Regions from separate parts of the Homo sapiens genome. Here all the other regions are linked to region 3. The links come from fine-mapping of genetic effects on gene expression. A gene starts in region 3. Each other region holds a variant in brackets. All regions are shown on one strand. Distances are between the middles of the regions. Region 1 overlaps KIAA1614. Region 2 overlaps STX6 (syntaxin 6). Region 3 holds the start of STX6 (syntaxin 6). Region 4 overlaps MR1 (major histocompatibility complex, class I-related). Region 5 overlaps STX6 (syntaxin 6).

What was found.
Region 1: its variant is fine-mapped to the expression of STX6 in whole blood (INTERVAL, PIP above 0.99).
Region 2: its variant is fine-mapped to the expression of STX6 in whole blood (TOPMed, PIP 0.99).
Region 4: its variant is fine-mapped to the expression of STX6 in whole blood (TOPMed, PIP above 0.99).
Region 5: its variant is fine-mapped to the expression of STX6 in whole blood (TOPMed, PIP above 0.99).

What each region holds. Positions count from the first base shown.
Region 1 is chr1:180,948,024-180,954,066 of GRCh38, reverse strand. KIAA1614 reads right to left here. Exons shown (of 9, transcript NM_020950.2): 9 at 2,453-6,043. It overlaps KIAA1614-AS1 (KIAA1614 antisense RNA 1), which reads left to right. Exons shown (of 2, transcript NR_145481.1): 2 at 3,149-4,377. Among named protein-coding and RNA genes, the nearest start is that of KIAA1614-AS1, 3.8 kb to the left of the region's middle. RefSeq lists a silencer at 1-125 and an enhancer at 4,092-4,642. The variant G/A (reference allele first, on the strand shown) is at 2,670.
Region 2 is chr1:180,988,644-180,994,686 of GRCh38, reverse strand. STX6 (syntaxin 6) reads left to right here. Exons shown (of 8, transcript NM_005819.6): 4 at 1,262-1,324; 5 at 4,578-4,703. Among named protein-coding and RNA genes, the nearest start is that of STX6, 31 kb to the left of the region's middle. RefSeq lists a silencer at 3,718-3,878. The variant C/T (reference allele first, on the strand shown) is at 3,814.
Region 3 is chr1:181,019,637-181,025,679 of GRCh38, reverse strand. STX6 (syntaxin 6) reads left to right here and starts at 2,810. Exons shown (of 8, transcript NM_005819.6): 1 at 2,810-3,041. The coding sequence starts at 3,007. RefSeq lists silencers at 2,529-2,628, 2,749-2,878 and an enhancer at 2,287-3,070.
Region 4 is chr1:181,044,275-181,050,317 of GRCh38, reverse strand. MR1 (major histocompatibility complex, class I-related) reads right to left here. Exons shown (of 6, transcript NM_001385161.1): 2 at 1,006-1,266; 3 at 32-307. Among named protein-coding and RNA genes, the nearest start is that of MR1, 13 kb to the right of the region's middle. RefSeq lists enhancers at 3,655-4,157, 5,476-5,715, 5,836-5,975 and a silencer at 5,275-5,424. The variant C/T (reference allele first, on the strand shown) is at 2,951.
Region 5 is chr1:180,972,870-180,978,912 of GRCh38, reverse strand. STX6 (syntaxin 6) reads left to right here. Exons shown (of 8, transcript NM_005819.6): 8 at 2,267-6,043. The coding sequence ends at 2,343. Among named protein-coding and RNA genes, the nearest start is that of KIAA1614-AS1, 21 kb to the right of the region's middle. The variant G/T (reference allele first, on the strand shown) is at 2,997.

The DNA.
Region 1 (6,043 bases), 72 kb after region 3:
CTGCCCTGGCCGGTGGGGACAGCCCGCCCTGCCAGGGAGACTTGGGGGGGCACCGGAGTCGCTGCGAGGTTGCCTCTAGTGGCCTGAGGGCGGGGCGGGCGCGGGGCAGCTGCTGAGGGCACAGTCGCCTCCTGGTCGCAGGGCCCGCGACAGACCCCGATTCTCCCTCCCGGGACACCGGGTGCCAGCTGCGGATATCTCTCGCCGCCGCTGCACCCCGCAGCGACAGAGGGGGGCCCCCGGGAAAGAGGGGAAAACCAGCCGCCGCCCGGGACGCTGGTTCTGCGGGTGGCTTCTGAAAATGCCCCCAAGCCCCGAGGAGACTGAGGTGCCTGAGGCAAAGGGGTGCCACTTTCTGCTCCGTGTAGTCCCAGTGTCAGGGGCCTTCTGTGAACCGCGGGAGGGACATAAGTTAGACACCGGGAATACCCACACCTTTGCATGTGGCTGCTTCGTTTCTGTGCCTGAGCCACTTGGCCCTTGCTGTAGCTTCCTACTCGTTTTACAAAGCCCTGCTTGTGCTCACCTGCCCGGTTGGCGCCCTTGCCAACTACCCGGCCAACCACGAATCACGGCCCCAGGCTGTCCACAGGCTACCCACAGGCTACACCGGCTGCAGCTCCTCTTGCAGCATACCCTGCATCCGGCGCTGTAATGTGTGTGTGCCTCCCCCTGGGCTGGGGCCCCTTGAGGCTGCGGGTCTTTCTTAAGTCCGGGGGCTCTTGCCTGGCCTAGGCCTGGTTCCTGGTTAATAAGCTCTCAGTAAGAAGGTTCTGATGGCCCAGGCACTATGGCTCAGGCCAGCACTTTGGGAGGCTGAGTCGGGCGGATCACATGAGGTCAGGAGTTCGAGACCAGCCTGGCCAACATAGTGAAACCCTGTCTCTACCAAAAATACAAAAATTAGCTAGACATAGTGGCAGGCGCCTGTAGTCCCAGCTACTTGGGAGGCTGGGGAAGGAGAATCACTTGAGCCCAGGAAGCGGAGGTTACAGTGAGCTGATACTGTGCCATTGCACTCCAAGCCTGGGCAACAGAGTGAGACACTGTCTCAAAAAAAAAAAAAAAAAAAAAAAAAAAAAGGTTCTGATGTTCCAGTGTGTGAGGCAGGGCTGCCCTAGGCCTTCGAGGTCAGCAGCTCCCCAGGCAGGCAGATGCAGGCAGTTGGGGAAGGTCAAACAGGAGGCTGGAGGAACCAAAGCCCCCTCCCATTTCCACACAAGGCAGGGCCTGCACATCAGGCTGCCCCAGGGAGAAGCTGGGATGCCAGCGCCTTTGCCTCCTTGGAATTAGGTCACCGTCCAGAGGCCTGGGAGCCTCCAGTGTCCCGCGTGCCTCGTGCCCCTCCCCTAGCACCAAGCCTTTTCTGGCATGGGGAGGCAGCTGCAGTGGGAAAAGTGGGCCCCAAGTCAGAGGGGCAGGATTGCATGCCCTGTCACTGCTGCTGAACTTGGTTCCCCATCTATGCAAAATGAAGACAATGAGCAGGACATACCTGGCAGGACTATTTAAGGACTAAGTATGTCACCAGCCCGGGAGGTGATACGCCTGAGGCCTTTTCCCGTCCTCCCAGCCCCAGCCACCCCCTTCCACCTCCTCCCACCTGGGAAGGCAAGTTGTCCTTTTCAGAGAAAAGTGGAGCTGTCTTTGGCCCCCAGGAGCTTTTCTCAACATGAAATTTCTCCAGTTTTGTGACCTTAGGCCAAGAATTGCAGTATAGGAGGAGCCAGGGTTTCTCCACACTTGAAGTTTCTTGCTGTGGGCTCATTTCTACACTTTGAAGAGTGCCAGTGCCCTCTTCACAGCCTGAAGCCCCAAGCACTTGTTCCTCTGGCCCCTCTGCTCACCTGCCAGATCCCCCTAATTCCTCCTCCACCCCCCTACCCCATTCTGTGAGCCATGGGGCTCAGCCCCTCCCTCTCCTCCCATGGGCATCATGAAGACAGGGTTCTACCTGGCTCCTGCTGCAAAGGCCCTGGGTGGGGGAACACACTCCCAACACTGCACAGGACTGCCTCCCCACCCCCACGACCTTGTCCCTGGGCCACAGGCCTGCTTCAGTGTTCTTGCCCAATGAAAGCTGCCCTGACACTCTTTTAAACCCGATTCTGCTGAGGGTTGGGTTTCTTGGTTCCAGGATTTTTTTTTTTTTTTAACCACAGCTGGCACCCTGGCCAGTTCTAAAACAGCCCTGAACTTCCTATTCCACTCCTCAGTTGTGCCCAGCTAGAGTCCCTTGGCTTCTTCTCTCCTGGTCATAAACCTTGTCCAGGGCTTTTCTTTTGCCAAAGGACGGTCTGGAGGCTTCTGCATCTACCCTGGCTGTCACCCTAACCCGTGGCCTCCCCAGCCTTTCCTCTGGCATGCCCACCACCAGCACCCCACTCCCTGGTCCTGCCCATGGCTAGTGAGGGTCAAGTGAGTGTCCAGCCGAGAATTTAGCAACTCAGAGTGAGAGAAGCTTTAGCTTTGCTTTTTAGTAAGTTAAGACTGACACATGGCCATCCACTCCCAAAGAGTCCCAGCCCTCCAGGCAGCACTGAGGCCCAGGCAGATGGCCCAGCCGCGCTCTGCAGCTTCCCTGCTGCCCACCCACCCACCTGCCCACCGACAGCACCGCCAGGAGGTCTGGGCAGAAAGCATGCAGCTGTGATGGCCAGGCACCTGCC[G/A]CAGCCCTGTCTCCAAGCTGGACAGAACTAAGATGGAGGCTGCCACAGGTCAGGTTGCAGCAACTCTTGCCTCCACCTGGGCAGAGGCAGCGGCCGGGGTGGCATGGGGCTGGTCTGGCCGGTCCCACTAGCTGGATCCTGGCTACCACAGTAGCACGTCCTGAAATTGGTCTTTGTTGTTGTTGTTGTTGTTTTCAACTTTATGTATAAAAAAATTTTCCTAGAAATTTTTAATATTCTGGCTACCAGATAACATCTCCCAGAATTCCCACACCCCGAAGGGGCATAAAACTCCTGCCAGACCACACGTTCTGATTTTGGTTTGGCATATATGGTCAATGGCTGTAAGGCTGGTATTCCGGGACACTTTGCCCATTTCTGGATAAAGGGCAAGGGCAGTGAATGGAGTAGGGAGGAACGTGGCTGAAATAGGGAAGGGTCAAGGCCAATATGGACATGTGCTTTCTTTGGTTCCACAGTGTTGGAGGCTGTAGCCTTTGACCAGGCATGGGACCAGGAGGTGAGGCCGGCTCTCAGGCATCAACCAAAGGATCCACTGAATCTCCCTTCTCCCCCTGCCAACAAAGGTACAAGTAGATGTTGACACCCCCTCAGACATGGAAGGAGACCCATTTTTTTCTTTTTCTAGTTCTGGATAAATGGCCTTAAACAAAATATGCAAACAGGCTCCTTGCGTCTCCCAAAGGCAGCCCACCACAGAAGCCCTGCCACAGCCCAAGGGGTTAGATGCTGCCAGGATCTGTTTCCGCCACAGAGCAGCTCTGTGCAGCACGTTCCTGCCAACCACCCTGAGTGCTTCAGGGCTTCCGAGGCCGTGACAGTGAGGGCAGCGGCACTTCTGGGTCACCGTGGGACAGGTCTCTGCCTCAGGACACGGATTGACAAGCTCTCTGAGTGGGCCAGGAGCTCCTTAATGTGAGCCAAGCCCAGCCCTGCCACCTTGGCCCCGTTCACCTCGAGGATCTCATCGCCCACCCCCAGCAGCCCTGAGTACAGCTTGGCCATGCTCATGTCAGCCATCTCCTGCACGTAGATCCCTGCAGAGGAAAACAGGAGAATTTCACAATGACACCCAAATCGAAGAAGTGCATCTCTGGAATGCTGACCATGTTGATGAGGTGCTGTTTGTGTGGCACAGGGAGGAGGTGCTCATACCAGGCACTTCTCTGTGCGCATGCACACATACACACACCCCTCATTATTCCATCTCACAACCACAACTGGCTTTAGACATAGATACAGTGCGCCTCCTCCATGGTCTAACTCCATTCCACTGTCTCTGCTTTTAAAGTGGAAATGCTCCTAGTGCAAATAACGCGTTAAACTGTTGTCATTTATTTATACCTGACAGTGAGTGAGCTAATCTTTTTCTGAGATGAGCTTTTCTTGTAGAATTGGGAGGAAAATAGTTTTTAAAAATTAGGAACCATACCTACTCAGTGCCTGGCACTATGATCCAGTTGCTGCCTCAGGTCACCCAGGCCCAGCGTAAAGGCCGGGGTGGTGGGAAGGTATCATCGGAAGAGCAAAAGTGGCTGAGCCACATCCAAGCCTGGTTTGCTGCACTCTATTGCCAAAGACTGACACTGGCCTCAGTCTTACTCAGATATGGCTCCTCAATTGGGATGGGGAAGCATCTGAGCAAAAAACCCCAGGAAAAATAAAAATTCTAGCCACATATTTCAAAGCTGCGGTGGCTCCCTCTCCTCTTCTGCACATGCCCCCTCCTCCCCACCCCAAAGAGGCCCTGCCTGGGTCTAGAAGGTGCCAAGAGCCAGCCTGCGGGAACTAGCTTCTCTGCTTCTTTGCCAGGCTCCGGCTCTCAGGGAGCCCCCCGTCAGTGGGGCAGGCCCTGTGGGGCTTGGGCTGGCTGGGCTGGGAAGTGTCCAGCTGAGGAGGCCCCCTGCCCCCAACCCCCGCCCGCCGGCCTCAACCGCGGCTGGAAACCTTTCAAATTCCCCTCCAGCTGCTCCCACCTGGGAGAGTAAGTGAGGTGCTGGCTCTCCCAGGGCAGGCTGGACCCCCTGATGCCCATGCTTCATGCTGGGTGGACACAGGGGCTGAGACACAAGCTGAGTTTGCTGGAGGGACTGCGGGGCACACCCCTGGTGTGGGCATCAGCACTGGCGGAATTCAGGCTGCTCAGCGCAGCCTTTGGCACCCTCGCTGTTCGCAGCCCAGCTCGGCTCACTCTGCATTTCAGACATGAGGCCACTGCCCACGCGTTACTGTCTTCACTTCCTTTTCCTCGAATCAGGTTCTTAGCAGGGGCCCGAAAGGGCATCAGGTCTGCTCCTCAATCTCTGGCTTGAAACTAGTCACCACATCTTGGACTAGTGGGAAGTCCTCTCTCGGATCCCCCAGCCCCGTAGGAGCTTTGGGCAGCCCAGCCTGTGGCCCTGACAGAAGTCAGGCGTTTTAAAGCCTGCCTCTGAAGTGTGGGTTTGAAAGAGCACTGATCTTCACCGAAGTACCTGAAAGTCTGTGGCTCTGAATTTAGTAAATCCAATCTTTGTACACATTCCCCCTCCCTGGTCTGAGGTGTAGAATCCCTTTTGTTGCTTCTTGGCCAAGCCGAGCCTTTTCTGTGGGGCTGTCTTCCCTGACAGAGTACATCTGCCATCCTGACTGTACAAGGCGTTTTCCCTCAGCCCTGTCTTTTACCTCCTCTAGATGGACCTTTCACTGCTTGCCCTCCCTGTCTACGGGTTGGTGGCACGGGGAGGGGGCAGGTAAGAAGGGGCCCCTGGGGCAAACCCAGAGAAGTGTCTGATGTGCTGTGGGAGTTGCAGGTGGGGACTAATGATAAACCCTGAAAGAATGCTGCCAGAGCTAGGCCAGACACTGACGTCACGCCTGCCATTTTGGGGAGACTCGGGTAGGTTTCGCAACTGAAATTCGTGACACAAATATGACAGCCTGCTGTCATAGGCATTTATTGTCTGCTGGAAATGGCCTTTGTTGAGGATGTGTGATCTCTATGTTGTATCCAATTAGAAGCAGAAGGCAAAGCCTGCTGTTCTCACAGGCTCATATAGAGTCGGATGTGAAAGCCAGCAAGTTAATACCAGCATCCTGCCGGTTCAGTGCGGGGCGCAAGCCAGCCCTCCTCACAGCCCCTTGGAGCCTGGAAGAAGCGACCCTCTGCTGTTGGAGGATGGCCTGGGACACGGAGGCCCCAGCACTCGCCAGGCTTCATGTGCGTGGGGACCCCTGTGTGCCATCCAGCGCCCATGATGGCAGCAGGACCAGGGAGTGCCTGGGCACAACGGGGAGCTGGCACCAACTCAGGCGAGGGTGCCGGGGGCCCTGGGTCACTAGAGACCCCTGCCCATCAGAGCTCCCTGACGGGT
Region 2 (6,043 bases), 31 kb after region 3:
TTTCCCCCTGCACTCTTCTGGCCTCAGGTAACCACCTATCTATTCTTTGTCTTCATGAAATCCACCGTGAGTGAAATCTCATCCACTTATGAGTGAGAACATGCAGTATTTGTCTTTCTGTGCCTGGCTTATTTCACTGAGCATAGTGACATCCAGGGGAACTGCATCTTTAACAACACTCACGTGACTGACTCAGGCATGTCATCATGATGTGAACTCCATGTGGGCAGGGGCCTAGCTAGTATCATTCACTGCTGTATGCCTGGCCACATAGTAGACATCAGTGAGTGTTTGCTAAATGGATAGATGAGTGGTTTGAAAGTTGAATCAGGTGGTTCTCACTCACATTTACCACAGTTCTGGGATTGTAAAAGCGGTGGCACTGTCTCATCTGTTTACTTGTCATGGGTCTTTAAAGAAGTTTCTAAAAGTCTTACACTTTGATGTTTGCATAAATTATATTTTGACGACCTTTTAAAAACTGTTGTTGCAGTCATGTATTCAGTTCAAATCATTCTATAGTAGATTGGATTGTAGCTAAATAAGCAGAATGACTCATATTTAATAAAGTGTTTTGCTTCAGATAAAGTAATGGATCTATTCACTTTTCATTCCATACAAAATTATTTTTGACACCACTCTGGAAATTCACTCTGATGTTAGGAATAGTCTATACCTTTCATGAATCCAACTCAGAAATAAAATAAGTGACCTGTTGTACCACTATTTGGAAGTATTCTTTGGTGTTTAATGGTAAATATACTTTATACTAAAAGCACATGGTTTTTTACATATATTGTAAAAAAGATGCAAGCCCTTGAACACGTGCTTTTGTGTTTGTACCCCAGGGATGTTCTTTATTAGTGATGTGACTTTGAGAAAGTATCATCGTCTTTTTGGACCTAGGTCTCCTCAACCTTAAAATGGAAATAGTACCAGCTTCACAGGGTCCTTGTGAAAATTCAGTGATAATGTGTGTATGTGTTTAGCACTGTTTCTGACCTGTGGTAGGTACCTGGTAAATGTTAATTCCTTTCTCTTTCCTCCTATTCAAATTAGTATCCAGGTTACTTCTTTTTAAGGGACCATCTTTCTTTTTATTTTATTTTCTTTATTTTTGAGACTGAAAATAAAGCCAAGAAATGCGGTCTTCTTTTTAAAAAGTAATAATAAATTGTGTGTTTTGCTAATGTATGAAATGTTAACTGTGATTTTGTTTAAGGATATTTTTCATTTGTTTTCGTATCTTCTTTCTCATTAGGACATGAAAGATCAGATGTCAACTTCATCTGTGCAGGCATTAGCTGAAAGAAAAAATAGACAGGTGAGAAAACATCAGAATATAATTATCAATGACAGAAAGCATACAGTTAGATATTTGGAATTTAAAAATGCTGACCATCCATGGATCATGTAATCAAGAGGAAGACTTCTGCTTGCAGGCCCTGGTGTGACCATGGGAGGTTTTGTGACAGTCCAGGCAGCCTGTCCCAGCACCCTGTCAACATTTCCCTCCCCTCCTCTTACCCTCTGGTCTTCTTCTCTGGGCTCCATAGCACCTTTTGCCTACCCTTACTATAGCACTTATCACAGAGTACTTTTACTTTTTTAATGTGTTTATTCTGTACCTATTGAACACATTTTGTGTGCCAGGCTCTTTGAAGGGCTATAATTACTGTCTTTCTCTCTGCTGGGCTCCAGGCCCTTTGACAGTGAGGAGAGATGTGTGTCATGGTTTTTTGTTTCTTGTTTGTTTGTTTGTTTTGAGCTCTCTAGCAGTTACTACATTGCCTACCCATGGAACACATTAGACATCTAAGGATTGACATTTGATGTAAAGACATTAGAGGAACCTTAAACTTGTGTGTTAAATTAAGTTTCTCTTTGTTTTAAGTAGTTTTAAAAGAATTACATACTTTGGCATATTGATAGAAGCTCCTTTCTAATTGTTAAAATACAGTCCTTTTAAAAAATGTAGAATGATCATCTAGAATTTGGACTTTCATTTAGATTGAGATTTGATTTAGACTTTTTTTGGTGGGATAGAATGTTTTTGCCTGTTGCTAAACTGTTAGGTAATTTTTTTGACAGAAGTAGTTTTTTAAATTCTGTGGATATCCATTTTCCTTAGAAGTAAAAAAGACTTCATGAAAAATGATACTATTTGCTTTAAATGACTTACCTTAGTCTCATTTTATTAAGATTCCAGAAAGTTATGAATTGTCCATTTAGTAGGCTCTTGAGAAATTTCACTATTTATACTAACTAGCAATCAGTACTTCATACCTGTGGGTATTTGTCAAGACACTTAATTTTGAAAACAAATATTATGGAAGCTTGAAGAAGGGGCAGGGTTCTATAAATATCACCTAACTTAATTTTCCTGTTTCCTTTTCTTGCATTCCATTTTTCAAGTCATTGTTTTGTTTTTGGCTTTTTAATCTTATTTGCCTCCTTTGCTTTCTTTTTGAGCAATATAGCTAGGAAAAGCCACTAGCTGGTCCATTCCATCTGGCTCCCTCTCTTGAAAGAAGCTAGTGAATGCCCTCAAGTTGGCTAGTTTTGGAGTTCTCTTCTCATTTGCACTTGAGCTTATAGGAAGTGGAAGTAACTGAAGTAGTTGTGACAGTGAGGTCAGTAACACCTATGCTGTTACTCTTAATTTGAATGTTTTATTCTCTAGATAGTATAGTTGGGCTAACGTAAATAAAATTTATATTTATATATTTATAAATATATATATATAAATTTAAATATATTTTATATAAAGTATATATACATGTATGTATTTATATATTGCCTATCTAGTTATGGCTTGGAATTTTGTTTTAGGCTATGAGTGAAATGTCAAGTTGCAAATTTTCAAGGAATAGCAGGATCAGGGCTCTCTAAGCACTCCAGCAGGCATGGGCCTTGCCACGTTGTGCCAGGTGCCAGGCTCTGTGCTGCTCCTTGCCTCACCAGCACCCCTGCTCTGGCACCCACACACAGGTGCATCTTCCAGTCCTTGGGCCCTCTCTCAATCTCTATCCTATTATCACAAACATTTGGGATCAGACTGATGAACTTTAAGCTATTTCACAATAAAACGTGGATGATTTGCCCTATACTTAGCTCTACCTAAGTGTACACCATGGAAAACGTAGGAAAAATAGCCCTGTGACCTCAGGAGCACACAAGGCCCTGGTGGTGTCCCAGTTCTCTGTCCTTAGGCCAGTGATGCATTATAGCATTTTTCTGACCCTAAAAAAATTGTCACTATTTCCTCATGTCTTCCATAGAGGTCCTTAGAGTGTGGATCATAATGAGCAGGATCTTTTCAGTCTTGATAGCCCTAAGACCAGGTCAGGGCAGAGCCACCCACAAAAAGCCTTGGATCTGCTTTACACCAGAGACAGTCACCATCCAGCTGGACTGAAGCTCTGGGCCCCTGGAAGCTCTTGTAAGAAAAGCTTCTAATAACTGAGCTTCCCTGATCCTAGCCCCTGAAGTCTGGCCATTTGATGGAGTTCACCCCTCGCAGTCTGAGAAGAGGTCAGTGTCAGTATGGAGGAAGGTCATGGGGCTGTTGGAAGGGTTTTCAGACAGAACCAAGTAACCAGGCAGGCTTTTAATAGTGCCTGAGATTTTTTTTAAATTACCCGATAGGAAAATTTGGCAACTCTACAAGGAAAAAGAGTCTTAGTTGCTAGCGTCTTCTGGCTCTTGCCTGCGGGGCTGGTGTGAGCAGTTACTTTGACCAGTCAGGAAGGCTTGTGGGGATCTGGTCAGAACCAACTGCTGAGATGGAACTCTCACATTCCTGCCTGTCTT[C/T]TTCATGTGAGGAAGACATACCCATTTATGGCTGCAAACTTCCTTGAATTCATACTTGGGAAACCCGACCCTTGTGTCTGGGAGCCCTGGTGGAGAACTCTGACTTTAGGGCAGCCCTTGCCTCGGTTGCCAGGGTCAGGCATTCCTTGTGGTCATACCTGCCTGTAAAGTAACCCCCAGTTGTCATCTGGAAAGCCTGAAGGACCCTGGATTCTATTCATGGGTTAAACTTAACAGACATTGATGGTTCTTGTGCCTTTGTGTGTGAAGGGCTATGGCTTACCTTCTTGTCATTCCAGGGAACTCTCCCTTTCCCCCCACCAAAAAAACCCACAACTTCCCCTGGGTCACACTTTTTTTAAAAAAGTACTCTAGATCTTCGGAATCAGGTTGACTGGAACCTATGGGTTGCTGAAGTTCCACAGGTACCAGGAAGAGCTCTTTTACAAGAGATTGAATGCTTTTCAATTATAACACAGTATATAGATGGGTGTTTGTTGATTTAGCAGACGTTTATTTGCACTTTAAGGGGACAAAGCCCATTGTGAGGCCTATTGGGAGAGCTTAAAGACATAGAGGGCCCTTCCTGGAATTCCTTAAATAGTACCACCCAGGCACCAACCTACACCACTACATAAAAGCCTTGCCCAGGGGAAAATAGACAAGAAATGTGAAAACTCTTTATATCACTCTTGATGCATCACTTGTTCAGAGATAGTAATTGTTTGTTTCTCCTGACTCCTCTGGTTGTTCTTCTCACACAGGCACTGCTGGGAGACAGTGGCAGCCAGAACTGGAGCACTGGAACAACAGATAAATATGGGCGTCTGGACCGAGAGCTCCAGAGAGCCAATTCTCATTTCATTGAGGAGCAGCAGGCACAGCAGCAGGTACCCCAAGGACCCCAGACTTAGGACGGGCCAGTGGGAAACAAGACACCCCCTTAGTTCCTTTGCCAGCCATGGGGTCTTGTGGCTTAGTGACAAGGAGGGTAAGCCAGAGCTTGTCCTGTGTTGATTGTGTTTAATAATTGCATATGTAAAGGGTTTCAAAATCTTCACAGTGTGACTGCTTCAAGAGAACCAAGCTCAGCCAGGCGTGGTGGCTCACACCTTTAGTCCTAGCTACTGAGGAGGCTGAGGCTGGAGGATCCTTGAGCCCAGGAGTTCAAGGCTACAGTGAGCTTCGATCATGCCATTGCATTCTAGCCTGGGTGACAGAGCAAGACCCTTTCTCTAAAAAAATAAAGAACCAAGCTCAGTTAGTTCTCTTAGAAAAAACAGACCTTTGTCCATCTCAGCAAAGACACTTTCAGAAAGATCTCTCATTTTTTTCTTCGAAAATTATTGATTGGTTTCTTTTTTTTTTTTTTTTTTGTGAGACGGAGTCTCACTCTGTCACCCAGGCTGGAGTGCAGTGGCACCATCTCGGCTCACGGCAACCTCCGCCTCCCGAGTTCAAGCAGTTCTCCTGCCTCAGCCTCCTGAGTAGCTGGGACTACAGGTGCACGCCACCACGCCCAGCTAATTTTTTTTTTGTATTTTAGTAGAGACGGGGTTTCACCTTGTTTCTCAGGCTGGTCTCGAACTCTTGAGCTCAGGCAATCCACCTGACTCAGCCTCCCAAAGTACTAGGATTACAGGCATGAGCCACCGCGCCCGGCCTATTGGTTGGTTTTGTTATATGTAAAGATGACTGCTTTTGTGTAGGTTAAGGGGTAGAAGGAAAATGAAATTGATTATGTCTGTTGATGCCTTTGATATGTAGCTGTATTAATAAAAGCAAGCTAATGATAATGTGTCTGGGGATTTGAGGAGCATGTACCCATTGAAACTATTGATTCTTAAATATTGTGTTTTATGTATACATGTAGTTTATATGTTCTTTTGTTCTTTACATTAGTATGTCTGCTTAACCAGTTGTCTACTTAAATTGCTATTAAACCCAGGAAATTTTTTTTCTATAGAAAGTGAGAAGAATGCAACACAACTAAAAGTAAATATTTGTCAGTCAGTAGTTGTCCTTGAGGTAACTTATTGCCACAGGGAATCCTTTCGTTTGTCCTTGAAGAGAGAGGAAAGACTGCATAGTTTCCCCACATCCAGAGATTTGCCAGACTCTCTTGTATTTAAGCTGTGGCAGTCTGTTGTGGATTGAGACCTTGATCTTGGCAATGGGCTTCCTCCTCCCAAACATCCCCATGTCTCAATGGTCATCTGCACGTGTGCTT
Region 3 (6,043 bases):
ACCCCAGAAGCCTTCCTCCCTCTTCTTTCATCAATTCCCCCATACCCTGAACCAATCAGTCACCAAGTATACTAACTTTGCCTCTAAAGTATGTCTCAAATGCATCACTCTTCTCCACCTTAGTTGTCACAAGCCCAGCTCAGGATACCCTCATCCCTCCTCTGGACCATAACCTCCTAGCCACTGAAGCATCTGTCTCAAATGCCAATCTGACCCTGTCAATTCCCTCAGTCCCCATGGGGAACTGTCCATAGGAAGCGTCCACTATTCTGAACATTACAAACAAGGGCCCTGATAATCTGACCCTGTCCACCTCCAGGCTTAGCTCCTGCTGCCCCCATCCTTTTCCTTCTACTCCAGCAACATGGCCCCCTTCTCCTGGCTGCTTCTAGTCACTGCTTAGGAACCCCCTGCCCCAGCCCCGAAAACACACAAATATACTGGTATCTTGTCGCTGTGTTTCTATGGCAACCTGTGCCCTTCTCTCACTGTGTGTCTCTCCCACCAGTCTGTCTCTCCCACCAGTCTGACAGTTCCTTGAAGGCAAGAACCAAGCCTTGTTCATGCCTGTGTCTCAGTGCTTAGCACACAGTAGGAGCACAACATGTGTCAGGCACTGTTTTAAGCACTTTTCACACATCACCTCATGACACTCTATAAGGAAGCTGTTATTACGGTGTCTATTTCACAGTTGAGGATAGTGAGAGATGAAGCGGCTTGCCTGAGATGCAACAGTCAGGAAGCAGCAGAACTCAAGCAATCAGACTCCAAGGATGGTCTTCAACACCATGCTCACCTACCCCTCAATTTACATGTGCTTGTTGAATGAATGAACGATGACACGTTTTCACCTCCCCAGCTAAGTAAATTAAACAGTTCTCTCCCAATAAACATTAGCAATCACTAGTATTGGACACTGCTTCCTTTCCCCACATCTGCCTTCCATCATTCGCTCCTCCAGGGATTTTGGCTTTCACCCCTCTCTTCTCTCCCCTCCTGAAACCCATTCAGCCCCTCATCATGTCTAGGTGTTTAGTCTTGTTTTCCTTTTGAAACATCTGTCAGATTCACTCCTTCTCTGTTCTCAATCGCTGTCATCCTGGTCTGGACCTCATCCCTTCAGGCCACATGACTTTAGCAGCGTCCTTACTGGTTTTCCTGACTTCAGTAACTTAGTCCTTTGGGATCTTGAGGTTTACACACATTTTTATTTAACCATCACAACAACCCATGAACTAGCTATTATTATTTATGTTTTATAGATGAGGAACTGAATGATAGAGCCAAGGTTTAAACGGGGTTTGTGTTGCTCCAAGGACTGTGCCAGCTCCAGACTGGTGACCTTGGGCAAGTCACTTAACCTCCGAGTCTCAGATTTCTCATTTATAAAATGGGCATGATAGCAGTAATTATCACATTGTAAGAGCAACTGAGATAACACTTAACATCCTGCCTGACACACACACACAGTAAGTGCTCAATGATTTTCAGCAATCAAAGTCCACAATCCCCATCCACAAATTTCATAGCATATCTAGCATATGAGTTGGTTAATGGTTCTGGGCAAAATGTTTTCTCGAATAGCTCTTGAACCACAGTGAGAGGAAGTTGTCATACCTGGCCCCTTCTTTATTCCTCGAAGGTGTGCTCTCCTGGGAAGCACCATATGCTGTATGAAAAATTACTTTACATGGTTATTTGCAGAATGTACAGCAACAGAAAGTACACCCCATCTGGTGGAAAGTGCACAGAATCTGCAGTTCTGCCCTGTCCAGGCTGTGTGACTACAGGAAGTCTTCAAGCCTCTCTGAACTTATTTTCTTATCTACAAAATGAGAAAAATGGATGGTGTGGTGGCTCACGCCCATAATCCCACCACTTTGGGAGGCAGAGGCAGGAGGATCATGTGAGCTCAGGTGTTCAAGGCCAGCCTAGGAAATATACTGAGAGCCCCATCTCTATAAAAAATTTAAAAATTAGCCGGGCGTGGTGGCGCTCACCTGTAGTCCCAGCTACTCGGGAGGCTGAGGCCGGAGGATCGCTTGAGCCCAGGAGGTCAAGGGTGCAGTGAGCTGTGATTGTGCCACTACACTCCAGCCAGGGTGACAGAGAGAGACCCTGCCCCCCAAAAAGGGGGAGGGGGGAATAATACTTTCCCCCAAAGGATACTGAGATGATGCATACACAACCTTTAGCACACTGTCCAACACAAAGCAAGACCTACTTAAAGGATCTGTGTAACATTATAATCAGATACTATGCTTCATTTTAAGTCGAGGACCAGATAGATTTATAAATTACATACTGTCAAAATTAAGTATTAAAAGTAGAGGAAAGGTAAGAGGATTTTGCAAATCAGGTACAACTACAGCTTATCCTGAAAAGCCGACTGCCTAGTTCTGAGGGAACAAGCCACTCCTCACCCTCAAGCTTGAGGAGAGGGCTGTAGAAGCCCGCCCACCTCCACCGCCCCGAGGGCTCCGCCTCCAGGGCCGAGGGACGCAGGCGTAAGCCCCGCCCACTGGGGGGGGGGGGAGAGAGAGAGAGAGAGAGAGAGAGAGAGAGAGAGAGAGAGGAGAGAGAGGAGAGAGAGGAGAGAGAGGAGAGAGAGGAGAGAGAGGAGAGAGAGGAGAGAGAGAGAGAGAGAGAGATATATGCCCTGGTCACGTGAGCGGGGTGCGGAAGTCGTGTTTCAGGCGGCGTTCGTGATTGGCCGCGGCCGAGGGTCCCGGGGGTGGGGTCAGGCCCTCCGACGCTTCGGGAGGAGCCGGGACTGGAGGCTGCCGAGGGGGCCGGCGCCCGAGTCCGGGATTCGGCCAGTGGTGCTGAGCGAGTGCTGGACCAGCGGCCGTCCTGTGCACCTGGCCTGTGCGCGTGCCCGCTGCTCGGCTTCACCCAGACTAAGGCGCGGGCAGCTGCGGGAACAGGCGGGGTGGGCGGAGGGAGACCGGGAGGCACGGGCGCCCTGTGCGCGGAGGAGGTGAAGGCGGCCGGGGCCGGGACGCCATGTCCATGGAGGACCCCTTCTTTGTGGTGAAAGGGTGAGTGTCGGCCGAGCGCTCCACCGGAGGAAGAGGTGGCGGTGCTGCCTGCCCGCACCTCCTAGGTCTTCTCGCAGTGGGGGGAGGGGAGGCAAGTTGGAGCTGGGGAGGGGGAACAGTGGAGACGGCTTAGTCTTGAGGGCCATGACCAAGCGTCAAGAGACGTTCCCTCCATCCCTACCTGGACCGTGAAGCCACTGTCCCCAGCCAAGCCCCTGGTGGTGGGGGGCCCTTTTTGGCCTGTGTGCTGCGGTACAATTTATTTGGGGGCCGAGGGGCTCAGCAGCTCTGCAGGTGGGGAAGGAGACACGCGGGTCCTGGCGCACACTGGCCGTCTAGTCGAGCATGGGATCTTGCTTCGAAGGAGCGAAAACAGCATCTGGGCAGGAAAAGGGAAATGGCCCTCCTGAGCTTTGTAGTTCGCGTTGACGGGGGTGAGCTCCATTGTCCATTGAGTTTGGAGCGCTTGTCCGCAGACTGGCGAGACCACAACAAGCCCAGAGGCGTCTGAGCACGTTTGCTGGGAGGGAGGCGGGGGCGGGGGCCGTTCTGGGAGGCTGGGGAGCAGGGCACCGGAAGACAATTCAATGGGGGAGTTTTTACTGAGTAATGTGAGGAGAGGAAAGCAGTCGTTCATACTCAGTGATGATTTGGAAGGAAAACAAAATGAAACAAGCCAAACCAAACTTTCCTCAGCTTTCTATTAGCAACCGGAATTTTCTCACAGTGCTAAAGGAAATGAGTGTTGCTTGTTAACTCCTTGATTTCATCCAGGTTGTTTGACAGGTTTCTCCTATTTCTTCTGCCTTTCAGAATAGAAAGGACTGCCTTCTGTTCCCTTACAAGCTATCCTAGCTCATCTTTGATTGCTCGATTGTTTCTTTGGAGATAGAGTCTTCAACTGCACTTTGTAATATCCACTTCGTAGCCATTAAACACATGCAAGAAGATCAATTCTGATGTAACTTTTAGTTTCTTATTAGAAACTTGTCAGTTTTCTGTTTTAAATGTCAAACATGAAAAATCTGAAAACTGCAAAGTTCCCAGGTCAGTACTGATCACCACAGAATGTCCCTTGCTTTTTACTAGTTGCTGCTAGCTTCCTATTTCTGTAGTGGTGCAAGCTGGCCGTTGTATAGTCAAGTGTTGTAGAAAATTTAAATGGTATTTTAGGTGAAATACTTTATCGATTATGCAGTAAAATACATTTATACTACTTCTTAATATTTCCCTGGAAAGTTTTTTTTCTTCACCTTACTCTAATTTAGATGGGAAAATGCTGAGTTGTAAATTTACTGGTAATATGTGTATCCCTACCTAGAAAATGTGATATTTATTAGAAGGATTGATTTAGGGGTTAATTTTTAAAATAGATGTTTTTTCCTTGATTGAAAGTTCTTAATGCTTAGGTTGGCAAAGGTTATCTCTGGCGGTAGAGATCAGAGATGATCAGAAATTTTTTGTTTGACTTTTTATGGAATTTGTCAAAAGCCTAAATTCTTCTGTCTTGGCATTTTTTTTTCTTGATGGTATCCTATACAGTCTACTAATGCTTGCTCACTGATTAAATATCACTACTTTATCGGAACATTGGCTTGGAGGGAGTTTTGATTGATTTTTACATCATTTTAGCTCCTATCTTTAAGGTTCTTGAAGGAAAAGAGATTCTCAGTTCCTTCTGCTGTGGAAAGGTAAAGTCACCCATGAAGGTGTATCCAGATTTTTGGGGAGTCATGTACCTGTGTTTATTAAAAGTATCAAAAATGCATTACACAGCATGCAAAAATTAAAGGTGCCTAAATTATGGCCCTTAGCCTAGGAGCTTCTGGTCTAATCTGAGAAACAAATTACCCCAAAATTAAATAGAAATGACAGGTGGCAAATGAATGAGTGTTGAAGTGAATGCTACAGATAAGTGCCTCAGGAGTTCAGAGAAAGGTAACTCCTTGGGAATTGTTAGGATTAGGAGAGCTTTTGGAGGCAGTAGTGTATCTTGAATTAGGTTTTGAAGATGGGCAGAATTTAGATAATCAGGCCTGTCTCTCTTACCTGGATGCTTATCAGAGTCTTTTTAATTGTTCTTCCTGCTTCTGGTCTCATTTCCTCTTTCAGCTGTCCTGGGATCTATTGGATCATTGCTGTCCAATAGAAGTATAATGCCAGCCATGTATGTCATTTTACATTTTCTAGTAGCCGCAGTAAAATATAAAGGAACAGGTGAAATTAATTCTAATGTAATCTCTAATACATTCAAAATATTCAACATGTGATTAAAGATTATTGATGAGATATTTTACTTTTGTACTAAGTCTTCTAAATCTGATACATATTTTACACTTACTGCACATTTAAATTTGGACATTAAATTTTCATCAGAAATAATTGATCTGTATTTAAAGTTCATTAAATACATTTTTTTTTTTTGAGACAGAGTCTTGTTCTGTTGCCCAGACTGGAGTGCAGTGGTGCAATCACGGCTCACTGCAACCTCTGCCTCCCAGGTTCAAGCGATTCTTGCACCTCAGCCTCCTGAGTAGCTGGGACTATAGGTGTGTACCACCTCACCTGGCTAATTTTTGTATTTTTAGGACTATGGGCAGGGCACCCGCCACCACGCCCGGCTAATTTTTTGTATTTTTTAGTAGAGACGGGGTTTCACCATGTTAGCCAGGATGGTCTCGATCTCCTGACCTTGTGATCCACCTGTCTCGGCCTCCCAAAGTGCTGTGATTACAGGCGTGAGCCACCGCGCCCGGCCTACATACTCTTTAATTGTTCCAAACATACATAAAAGGTTTTTGATAACTGAATTGCTATCAGTTACCAAGTTTACATTAATTAAAATTTAATTTCTGTCACACTAGCCACATTTCCAGTCAGTAGTTGTATGTGGCTTCCGTGTTGGACAGCACAGTGTAAGCTTTTCTAGAGTCCTAGACAGGTGTACCCTACTTAATATTATTCAGTGGCTGCTGCTGGCCTGCAGAATAAAGTGCCAACAC
Region 4 (6,043 bases), 25 kb before region 3:
TGTGGGAATGAGGCCTTCTCTTTCTCTTTACCTGTTCTTTGTAGGGTGTCTTTCCCATACTCCAGGAATCTCTTTAGCCAGGCAATACATTCTTCTTCCAGCCAATTCTTTTGATACAGCAACTCATGCTGATTGGCCTCCCATGCCTGCTTGATGGTGTGAGCCACATTATCTACAGCCAGCCAGGAGAGGGTGTCTTTATTGAAGATCAGGAAATCCTGCCCGTCATATGCATACTGCAGAAATCCTGTGGTGCTTCCATCCTCCAGCAGCTCACAGCCAATCATTCTCTGGTAAGTGTGAGACCCTGGAACACACACAGAAGCCCAGAGGGGTCCACACAGAGACAGAGGTGGGCTCTCAAGTGCTGGGAGCAGGGGCATGGCTGGAAGCATCCTTTGGTCTACATTATGTCACCCCCCAGGCCTGCCATGGCATCGCTGAGTCCCCAGGAGGTCCCCCTTATGGAAGCCCACCTGTCAGCAGGTATCTGTGAAGTACCTACTGCCTGTCAAAGGAGTGTGCTAATTCCCGCCTTGGGGAGTTATCCTGTAATGGGAATGACTGATAAACTTTGTGGCTATTCTGACTGCAGTGGAGGAGGGAGAGAGATGCAGGAGCCAGAAATACCCCTGGGAAAGTTACTGTCGATACTCATAAGCAAGTCACTAGGCCTGACTACCAGGAAGTGAGACGCAGAATGGGCAAATTTAGAATGGAAAAGGAGATGCATATCAGAAGCCTGAGTGGAAATGGGATGCAGATACGGATACAGAGATGGGGAAGAGTGGGTGGGGCAAATGACAGAGTGCTCCTGGGGGAGAGAGGGACAGTCCAGAAGATGCACAGGCAGATGGGAGGCCCTGAACTCCACCAACCTGATTCCTCAGGCTTTGCCAAAGCTACAGCAGGTGCAATTCAGCATCCGCTTATTGGAGGCCAGCCCAGGGGTCTCTGCGGGTTGGGGTGGGATGGGGGAAGCGTCTGTCTCTGCCGCATGCACACCTGAGTGATTGTAGTGCCTCTGTAGGCGCTTCAGTTCCACCTTGAACATCTGCTGCCAGCCCCTCAGCAGCTGAGTGTACCTCTCCCAGTGATCAGGCGCGAGGTTCTCTGCCATCCATGGGGCCCGTGGCTCCTTCTGCCGAGTGACACTGTCATATGTGGTGATAGGGTGCGAGTCCACGTACCCAACCGAAATAAATTCAGGGACCCCATGGATGGGATCCGAAACGCCCAGGCGAAAATATCTCAGAGAGTGCGTCCCTGGAAAGGAGGCAAAGAAGGAAGACATGTAGGGTCCCAGATGATCCAGATCCTTCAACTGCATTCATTTAGCCCCACACGAGTGCTCCCTACTCAGCTGTACCCAGGCCTCCACGCCCCAGCTGCCATTTCCTCTTACAGAACCACAGAACCCAGGAACCGGGGCCTGGACAGGACGTAAGAGCTCCAGACCAGTGACTTGGAGCCTTTCTCGTTCAGGTTTGCAAATGCAGGATGGAATTTTATAGGTAATCTCAACTTGTAGACAAAATATAGAGTGCTGCTATGGTTGTAGGGGGAAGGGAGAAGACCACTCATTGGGGATACAGGGGGAGCTGTCCCTGCGGGAGCCCTCGGGAACTCTGAAGGCTTGAAAACCCTGATGACGCAGCCTTCTTCTTTTACCAAAGAAGCCTCTGGTGAATAAATGAGGACCCCCACTCCACCTCTGTGTGTGCACGTGTGGGCATATACACACAGGCACACAAACACATGCACTGAGCATTTTTTTTTTTTTGAGATGGAGTCTTGCTCTGTTGCCCAGGCTGGAGTGCAATGGCACGATCTCTGTTCACTGCAACCTCCGCCTCCTGGGTTCAAGTGATTGTCCTGCTCCAGCCTCCCAGGTAGCTGAGATTACAGGCACACACCACCACGCCTGGCTAATTTTTTGTAGTTTTAGTAGAGTCAGTGTTTCATCATGTTGGCCAGGCTGGTCTCAAACTCCTGACCTCATGATCTGCACACCTCGGCCTCCCAAAGTGCTGGGATTATAGGCATGAGCCACTGCGCCTGGCCGAAATTTATTTATTTATTTTATTTTATTTATTTTTTTGAGATGGAGTCTTGCTCTGTTGCCCAGGCTGGAGTGCAGTGGCACAAACTCGGCTCACTGCAACCTCCGCCTACCGGGTTCAAGCAATTCTCTGCCCCAGCCTCCAAAATAGCTGGGATAACAGGCACTGGTCACCACGCCTGGCTAATTTTTTTGTATTTTTAGTAGAGACAGGGTTTCACCATCTTGCCCAGGCTGGTCTTGTACTCCTGACCTCGTGATCCACCCACCTCGGCCTCCCAAAGTGCTGGGATTACAGGCGTGAGCCACCGCGCCTGGCCTATTTATTTTATTTATTTTTTATTTTTTATTTTTTAGAGACAGAGTCTCACTCTGTCGCCCAGGCTGGAGTGCAGTGGCATGATCTTGGCTTACTACAACCTCTGCCTTCTGGGTTCAAGTGATTCTCCTGCCTCAGCCTCCTGAGTAGCTGGGACTACAGGCGCGTGCCACCATGCCCAGCTAATTTTTGTATATTTTTAAAGTAGAGATGGGGTTTCACCATATTGACCAGGCTGGTCTCAAACTCCTGACCTCGTGATCCGCCTGCCTTGGCCTCCCAAAGTGCTGGGATTATGGGCGTGAACCACCGTGCCCAGCCTATTTATTTATTTTTTTGAGACAGAGTCTCACTCTGTTGCCCAGGCTGGAGTGCAGTGGCGTGACCTTGGCTCACTGCAACCTCTGCCTCCTGGGTTCAAGTGATTCTCCTGCCTCAGCCTACTGAGTAGCTGAGATTACAGGTATGTGCCAGCATGCCTGGCTAATTTTTGTATTTTTAGTAAAAACAGGGTTTTGCCATGTTAGTCAGGCTGGTCTCGAATTCCTGACCTCATGATCTGCCCACCT[C/T]GGCCTCCCAAATTGCTGGGATTACAGGTGTGAGCCACCATGGCCGGCCGAAATTTTTTTTTTTTTTAAAGCACAGTGCTTTTCCTATTATGTCAAACCACTGCTGTTAACCATTTTCTTATTCTTTTTCTACTTACTAGTTATAAGGATTGTAATAAGGGTTAAAAGTAAACCAAAATGAAACAAAACTGTTTGGCCCTCCCTGCTGTTCCCACATTGAACTTCTCTCCGCTTGTCCAAGAAGCTTAGGGCCTGACGGAGACAAAGTGGTTTCAAGGTGGCATTATGGGTGGTGGTGTGTCCGCAATTGGTGGGTTCTTGGTGTCACTGACTTCAAGAATGAAGCCGTGGACCCTCGCGGTGAGTGTTACAGCTCTTAAGGTGGCGCGTCTGGAGTTTTTTCCTTCTGATGTTCGGATGTGTTTGGAGTTTCTTCTTTCTGTTGGGTTGGTGCTCTCGCTGGCTCAGGAGTGAAGCTGCAGACCTTCGCAGTGAGTGTTACAGCTCTAAAGGCGGTGCGTCTGGAGTTGTTCGTTCCTCCTGGTGGGCTCGTGGTCTCGCTGGCTTCAGGAGTGAAGCTGCAGACCTTCGCCATGAGTGTCACAGCTCATAAAGGCAGTGTGGACCCAAAGAGTGAGCAGCAGCAGGATTTATTGCAAAGAGCGAAACAACAAAGCTTCCACAGTGTGGAAGCGGACCCGAGACGGTTGCCACTGCTGGCTCGGGCAGCCTGCTTTTATTCTCTTATCTGGCCCCACCCACATCCTGCTGATTGGTAGAGCCCAGTGGTCTGTTTTGACAGGGCACTGATTGGTGCGTTTACCATCCCTCAGCTAGACACAAAGGTTCTCCACGTCCCCACCAGATTAGCTAGATACAGTGTCCACACAAAGGTTCTCCAAGTCCCCACCAGAGTAGCTAGATGCAGAGTGTCGATTGGTGCAGTCACAAACCCTGAGCTAGACACAGGGTGCTGATTGGTGTTTACAAACCTTGAGCTAGATACAGAGTGCCGATTGGTGTATTTACAATCCCTTAGCTAGACATAAAGGTTCTCCACGTCCCCACCAGACTCAGGAGCCCAGCTGGCTTCACCCAGTGGATCCCCCACTGGGGCTGCAGGTGGAGCTGCCTGCCATTCCCGCGCCGTGCGCCCGCACTCCTCAGCCCTTGGGTGGTCATGGGACTGGCGCCGTGGAGCAGGGGTGGCGCTCATCGGGGAGGCTCGGGCCGCACAGAGGCCCATGGAGGGGGTGGGAGGCTCAGGCATGGCGGGCTGCAGGTCCCCAAGCCCTGCCCCGCAGGAAGGCAGCTAAGGCCCGGCGAGAAATCGAGCTGCAGCGCTGGTGGGCTGGCACTTCTGGGGGACCCAGTACACCCTCCGCAGCCGCTGGCCCGGGTGCTAAGCCCCTCATTGCCCGGGCCGGCAGGGCCGGCTGCCCCCAGTGCAGGGCCCGCCAAGCCCACGCCCACTTGGAACTCCAGCTGGCCCGCAAGCGCCGCCCGCAGCCCGGGTTCCCGCTCGCGCCTCTCCCTCCACACCTCCCTGCAAGCTGCGGGAGCGGGCTCCGGCTTTGGCCAGCCCAGAAAGGGGCTCCCACAGTGCAGCGGTGGGCTGAAGGGCTCCTCAAGTGCCGCCAAAGTGGGAGCCCAGGCAGCGGAGGCGCCAAGAGCGAGCTAGGGCTGTGAGGACTGCCAGCACGCTGTCACCTCTCAGTGTTATGGGATCCAAGCTGGTGTGGGCCCTTAGGAGAGACTTCCAGAGAAGGTGATGTCTTAGGGAGGTCTCAGGGACAGGTAGGAGGTGAGTAGGCAGAGGGGCTGGGAGGGGATGCAGGAGGGCGGGCAGGGGGAGCAGGGCAGAGACCACATGTGCAAGCAGGAGGTTCGAGAAGGCGGGGCGTGCATGGGAACCAAATGGCCTGGGACGTCTGGAGCACAGTGACAGGCGTCACGGGCAGAGGCGATGCCTGGGAGGTGGAGCCCAGGCTGAGAAGGCTACGTACCCCATGCCATCCCCAAAAGCTGGCAAATAGAAGGTATGCAGCCACAATGGCTTTCTTCCCCTACTCTGCCTGCCGGTGTCTGCAGATGCCCATGTCCAAGCCTTTTGTCCTGTTATCTCCTGCCATTCTGACCCATCTAAATCCTTCCCAGTCCTCAAAACCCACCTCCAAAAACATTTCATCCCTAAAACAGGATCATCCCTAAAATTTCATGGCTAAATTGAGATGACAGATGGAGGCTCACATACCAGAGATCCAGATATTTAAAAGGAATAAATCAATCTAACAAACTTGAAATATGTTCTATCCCCCCACCTTGAGAGATTGCCCTTTGTATGGCTTCGAAGACCAAGTTCAAATTAAAAAATCTCACACTGTGTGAAGTTCTGGGCCTGAATGGGGCGGCACAGAGAAAGCTGGTGTCTCCCTCCAGTCCCCGGCCCTCAGCCTGAGACTCACCTCTTTTTCTTCCTGTTTCTTGCTCCTTCCAGCACTGCCAAGGGCCTCCCACAATTAAACACCTCTACTTTTTTATTCAGGCTCAGCCACAAACTGCCTCTTGTCTGAGCTTGTCCTGGGCTTAAGTGATCCTCCCACCTCTTGGCCACCCCTCAGGCCTAGCAAGGCCCTCAAGGGCAGCCAGTCCACCTTTAGGAGGATGGGCCAAAGTGCGAGTTTGTTGTGTAAACCTCAGCAGCTCTGAGTCAGCTGAGTGGGGAACTCCAGGTTCCTGGGTGCCTGGAGTCTGGTCTAGAGTGGAGGGGCCCAGACACAGGGTTACCACCTCCCCTCAGCCTCACGCACTCCTCGCTCTGTGGGAAAGGATGTGGGTAGCAGAGGGCCAGAGTGGGGCTCTCTGAATGTGGGGCCATATCCAGGGGCTTCTCTTGCCTGTGTCTAAGAGCTGTACTACACAACACTTCCCCAGTCTTTCCAGATTGCCCACCCTGCTGCTGCCATCACCTTTAGGACCTCCCCTACATTCAGATCTTCTAACCTGGCCCTTGCCACTATAGAGAATCTTGCAAGGGTGAATACCACTTAATGATATTCATTCCTTCCTCCTCATTTATAAGCATATAGTTAA
Region 5 (6,043 bases), 47 kb after region 3:
ACCTTTTTGTTGAAAAGTGGACATGATATACTGGGTAAAAGGAACTGTGGTAAATAGACCTTTACCATAGATGGGGTGGTGAGGCCGGGGGGTGGCATTTTCTAGTCCTGTGATTAGGTCTTAGCCTCTGGTGAGCCTGTGCCCCTGGCCCGTGAACTTCACTAGTGCTTCCCAGTTTTTCTACTGTTAGGTGGAACTGGATGGCTAGAGAAGACTGGAGTTGGGTATTTTCCTTCCCCCAGGTTAGTCAGACTCTGGTTAGTTTCTTTTGAGGGCAGACTTTGTTTAGAACAGAGTGCTCTGGAGTATTTCGTAGTGATTCTTTTTCCCCTCCGCCTGCTGGAAGCATGAGGGGATTTTTCCCAATATTCGCTGAGAACCTGGTCAAGCTCCTGGAGGTAAAACCCACAGAAGTGTGGGGGTCCCCTTCGCCTGGGTCCACCTGGAGTGTTTTTGTTTGTTTGTTTTTCATCTCAGACTTGTCCACACTGAGCCTTCAGCGACTCATCAATTAAAGCTAAGGTTTTCCTACCAGAACACTGGTTCCTATGGAGTTTGTTGCTTCGTGGGTTTCTGCTCTGATAAGCTGTGATTCTCTGTATGCATCTGTAGGTTTCTGCAGTTTTAGGGGCAGCAGTTTACCATGTGACCTCACTTCTCTGATGGATCTAAGAAGAGTTTTGCTTTTTCAGTTTGTTCAGCTTTTTACTTGTTACGACAGAGTGATGACTTCTAAGCTTCTTACATACTTGGCTGGAAATTAAAAATTTAACATTTTTAATCAGATGAGAGAATGCCAGTTATAAAAGTTTTCTTGACCATTGAAGTAATAGTTAAACAGGTCAAAGTGTGACCTGCAGTAGGCCATCTCTGCCTTCCCTAGACCTTTGGAACAGTCCTACCTGAGAACAACGAGTGATGGACCTGGGGTCTTTGTCCTGCTCAGAGTTAACTAAATGAGTTTCTAGTATGTCTGAGGTAGACCAAGGTGATCACCACTTAGAAGGTACTTGCTTTACTTATAATTTGGTGGCAGTTCTCTTGTCCAGTTCTAAGACTTTGATATCCATAATATTTAAAATAATTTTAAGTACATGTTTTGCCTTGTGGAGAGTTTAGCAGTTTATTTTCATAGATTGAGATCTTTTTGCAACGTGATTCTCAATAACTATAGTGTGCTAAAATCAGTGGGCTTTCAAAGAAACTTTAGTGAATCAATATGTCTTTATATTTCTATTTAAATGGAACTCTTATTCCTAGTGGTTGTACTGCATTTTCATACGCTAGTGAATTCTGTTATCAGTCGGGCCCTTTGTGGAAGATGCCAAAACTCATCAGTGGAAGGACTGCTCATTTTTTCTACATGTCTCCAAATTAAGGAAGCATCCTGATGTTGACAGCATCCTCTGTGCCCTAGGTTTGGGTATTGCACAGTGTGTGTATGACAGGGTTGTGTTGTTTAATTCTCACAACAGCCCTGCGGGGCAGCTGTTGTAGAGTTGGGACCACAGGATTGTGAGCTGCAGCAGGGCTCCCCCAGGGCCTGTCTGGGCCCTTCTGTCTCACAGGGCCTCCCTGCTCTCAGCCATTTGGATGGACTCTAGTCAAGTTGTTTCCTGTGCCTGCTGTTCCAAATTGTTGGTAGGGCAGAAAGTTTCAGAAAAAAAATTCCACTTTCATTTACAGAGGAGCTGTACAAGGTACTTTAACACAGTTACTAGTTAAGTAATCTTACTTGACTAGGTGTGGTGTGAAATTAATCATGCTGTCTCACTGGAGCTTGCTTTTTCAGCTGTATATTTCCTGAAGTGACCAGCAGTAGCTTTCATCTCCTTTCCCTCCTCCCGTTGTGCTCATTGAGAAAAGAATGTGATTATTGTTTAATTAAATGACTTGACTTTTATGGGAGATTAAAGCAGGCAGGCTTTGATCTGTAACACCATTGCCAACACCTTTTTTGAGGATATGCTAACTACCAGCAGAAAGCTAAGATCCGCAGATTTTAATTAAAGACTTGAGACACAAAGCATGTAATTATTACGAGACATTTTCAGGGGACTGGCAAAGTTGTGACTGCATGCGAAGTGCAGGCCAAGAACAGAGCAGCATTAGAGCATCAGGCACCTAGGCAGGTGTAAGATCATGGCCCCGTCATTTGCACGTTCTGCCCCTTTTCTGCTTCAAAGGGTGCCATAAATTCCATATAACTGTATCTTGGGGAATGTGGAGTCCCTGTGAGAGCTAATCCCCATGTCCTGCCTTCCAGATCGGCGCCAATGGTGTGCCATAGCCATCCTCTTTGCAGTCCTGTTGGTTGTGCTCATCCTCTTCTTAGTGCTGTGACGGCGGGGCCTCTGGGTGCGAGTTCCTCCTGCATATGAACCGAGGGGAGGAGGAGAAGCTGAGCACGTGTGACATTGCCGTCTACTCACATTCCTATCCTGGAAACATACTGCTGCACTGACTTTTCTCCGTGTGACCCCACAATTGACATGGCTCCTCCATCCCAGCGCTGGAAGGGCCAGTGGGAAGAGGAAATAGATGTCTGCACTCCTGGCTGCAGCTGGACAACAGAAGCCCCATGCCGCCTGTCCAGTTCGGAGGAGAACTAGCTGCTGCCTTGCCTTCCGGGACCTCGTTTGCTGAGGAGGGACTTACAGACTCCACTGGTGTTTTGCTGTTGCTCATTCCATGCATCTTTGGCAGCTCTTTTCTTCTGCTCAGACCCTTCCCCGTGCTCAGACAGTGCACCGCTGTCCCATCTAAAGAAACCTGTCAGGAATACGAGCTTCTGGGTATGTTTCGTTTCCCATTGCTGTAGCATTTCTTATCCCCTGAGAGCTGATGATTATTGAGGACAGAAGGCTCAGAAACAGTTTGTGACAGAAAATGCAGTGTTTCATTTTTCAGGGATAAATGCTAAGATAAAATTGCTTTTCCAGGTCATTTTTTTTTGTGGTAAGAATAACTAATGGAAAATAATGAAACACCCTGGG[G/T]TTTGGGGGTGCTAACAACTTGTGGCTTTAACTGACAGGAGCAATTAAAAAGAGCAAGAGGGTTCTGCATTGGCATAGCTTAGGGAAGGGTTAATGATGTCGCCACAGGTCAGCTCCTGATCCTTGCCGACTTGATGTTGCTGTACCAGGGCTTCCTCCCCAGAGGTGCAGCTTGCGTTTTGAGGGTGATTGCTACATATGTTGTTGCTAAACAGCTCAGTAACACACTTGAATGAATTTGGATACCAGATTGTCCTCATTACAGTTCTTTTACTCTTAGGGCACTCTACACTGGGGGTTGGGGTTGGGAGTGGTTAGTACATTTATTACATTTATTAAGAAACGTAATGACATAAAAGGTTAGCTCTGGGCCAGACTTCTCTTACTCTGTGGGTAATGGCAAGGATGTGTAGGTAAACTTGGTTCTTTTTTTTCCCTAAGATGACAGCTTGATTTTATCATCTGCAGTCAAATAACTGAGCCAATCCAAATTTAAATGATAGATGCTTTAATTGAGTTTAAGTAGCTGAAACTGCTGAGACACTAAACTTTAACCTTCTGATGACTTTTTAAAATGCCTCAAATGTGCACATGTATATAGGATATTTTTATAACTTCCCTGATGAATAATCTGATATTAAAGTAGTATTTGGACCCAGAGCCAGAACTCGGTGGTGGAGGCTGCTGGTCTCTCCTCACCACCTTCTTTTGCACTTGGAAAGAACAGCAACATCTGGATAGAGTTCTAGCTTTGACTTCTCATTTCCTTGTCTTTTTGGGTGCATTCCTCAGCACACTTTTTTTTTAAACCTTTTTGTTTTGTTTTGTTTGTATTTCATGTGGTTTTATTTGGGGGTTTTGGTTTTTTCACCCTTTTTTGTGATTTGCAATGATGTGCTTGCCCAGCTAACTTTTGAATTGCACTTTTTAATAAATATTCTTAACAATTTTTGAAGAAGGATATTTTATCTCATTTGAGATCATGGTAGGTTAAGAAAATATGCCTGTTGATGAAAGCTAAAAGCAAATTTATGAAACTAAAAGGGTGATTGACATCCATGTTTACACTCCGCTCTAATGTTTGATATATAAATAAGTTATTTTCAAATTAGGAAAAAACAGTGAGTATTACAAAGGGCTTCAGATGTTTAGAGTACTAGGTTATTTATGTTTTACAAAGTTTGAATCTTCTATAAACTAAGAAAGGGGATGATCCTTAGATTTGCATTAAAATATAGAAGTCTTTTAAAGTAAATGTGAACCTTGTCTAAGTACTGTAATCCACACAACACATTATAAGAAGCAAACCAGCATCTTAAGGAATTATAAAATTACCCTATTTAAAAGCCATGCTATTGTTCTGCTATTACCAGATTTATTGTGCCACACAAAAGGATCATGTGTGTCAGCAGGGGCCGTTTGGAACAAACCTAGTCATTAATGAGTAAGATACTCCTGTTAGTTCAGGGACCAAGTTTTATGACCCAGAGGCTTAATGATGTTTGGATATATTTCAAATCGGCGTGCTTACCTCACTGATTTAAATTATTTTCTAAATAGTGGCCATTGTAGACCTGACTCAGGCTGAAGCTAAATAGAGAACAATTTAGAAAGTTAACTAACAATACAGTGCATTCTACCCGTAGGGCCACCATGCCCTTCTGCCCCTGGCTGATTTGATCCTGTGTCTGATCCCATTGCACCCTGACTGGGCAGTCCCTACAGAACCAGTGTTAATTTGAAGGGCCTCCACTCAGGCTCCAAATGTGGCAGCCAAAGAGAACAATCCAGGGAACCTACATTTATTTTTAAGGACAAATATTTCCTCCTCAGTGGTCCTAATGTTCAGGGCTTTAGAGGGAACCCAGGTGGTCTCTTCACCCTGTGTCCTAGAATGGGAGAGTAAGTAGACAGTGGTGATAACCCCACACTGCTTATAAGTGCATCTTTATAGTATTTGGGGCTTTCCTACCCCTTTAGCCTTCTGTACCTAGTACCATATTCCAGTTTTAAAGAACTGGCAGAATGTGATGGATAACAGAGGAAGAGCTCAATTTATGTTTATTGGAAGAACATTTTACTTAAATGATTTGAGGGGTGGGAGGGAGTGAACTACTGAGTTTGCCAGAGTGAAAATCCATCTGAAAAACTCAGCTACCTTTAGTTTTTAGTCCTCATTTTTGGTCTTGTCTCTGCGGACTGTGAAGAATCACAATGCTCTATATGCCCTGGACTGTGTGGCAAATGCAGGTTGCAGCGTGTGTGTTACATGAGGATCTTCCACAATTTCAGAATGCACGCCAGAGCTGAAGGGGGAAACTTGGTAACTTGCCCATTATTCTCTGCTTTTAGCCAGAGTTAAACAGACTGATGGGTCTGGTAGCCAACAACTTGGCAACTTCCACTCCTTCTCACCTCGTGAGATTAAGGGCTGTGAAAAGAAATCTAGTCTAACTCCAACAGAAATCTGTCTCTGTTAAGTGTTTTACCTTCTGTAAGTAGAGATGGTAGAGCCAAGATTTTTCTTTTGGTAATTTCCCTGTCTATAAAGTGAGACCAAAGGGATATCTGTTCCCTGTTACCTTTTTGGAGAATTCATAACATTTGAAGATCAAAAAATTGAATGATAAATATGAATGGCTTTTCAATTCTGTGGACTTTGTACCATTTGGCTTCACCTTGTACTGCAAGATGAATTTGTAAACAAAACAAAATTGGACTGTCTGGAAAGCTAAAGTTCTGAAATATGGAATGTACTGCCTCTAATTTTTCTTTGTCTTCCTCTCACTGGCATTTTTTTCTCTCCCAGGTTTCTTAAGAATAATGTTTTTTAAAGGAGGCTTTTTGCCCATCAAGAATAAAAAGAAATAAAACCAAAGGGTTACCGGACTTAAGCCCCCGCAGTCACTGTGCGCCATCCCTGAGCAAAGTCCGCCCCTGAGGACAGTGCCCCTGCCCCAGTGACAGGCCTTACTCCTCCCAGGGCCTTTGCTTCTAATAGGGGGTGGTCTTTCTTTTCTTTCTCTCCTTTTTTTTTTTTTGATTAA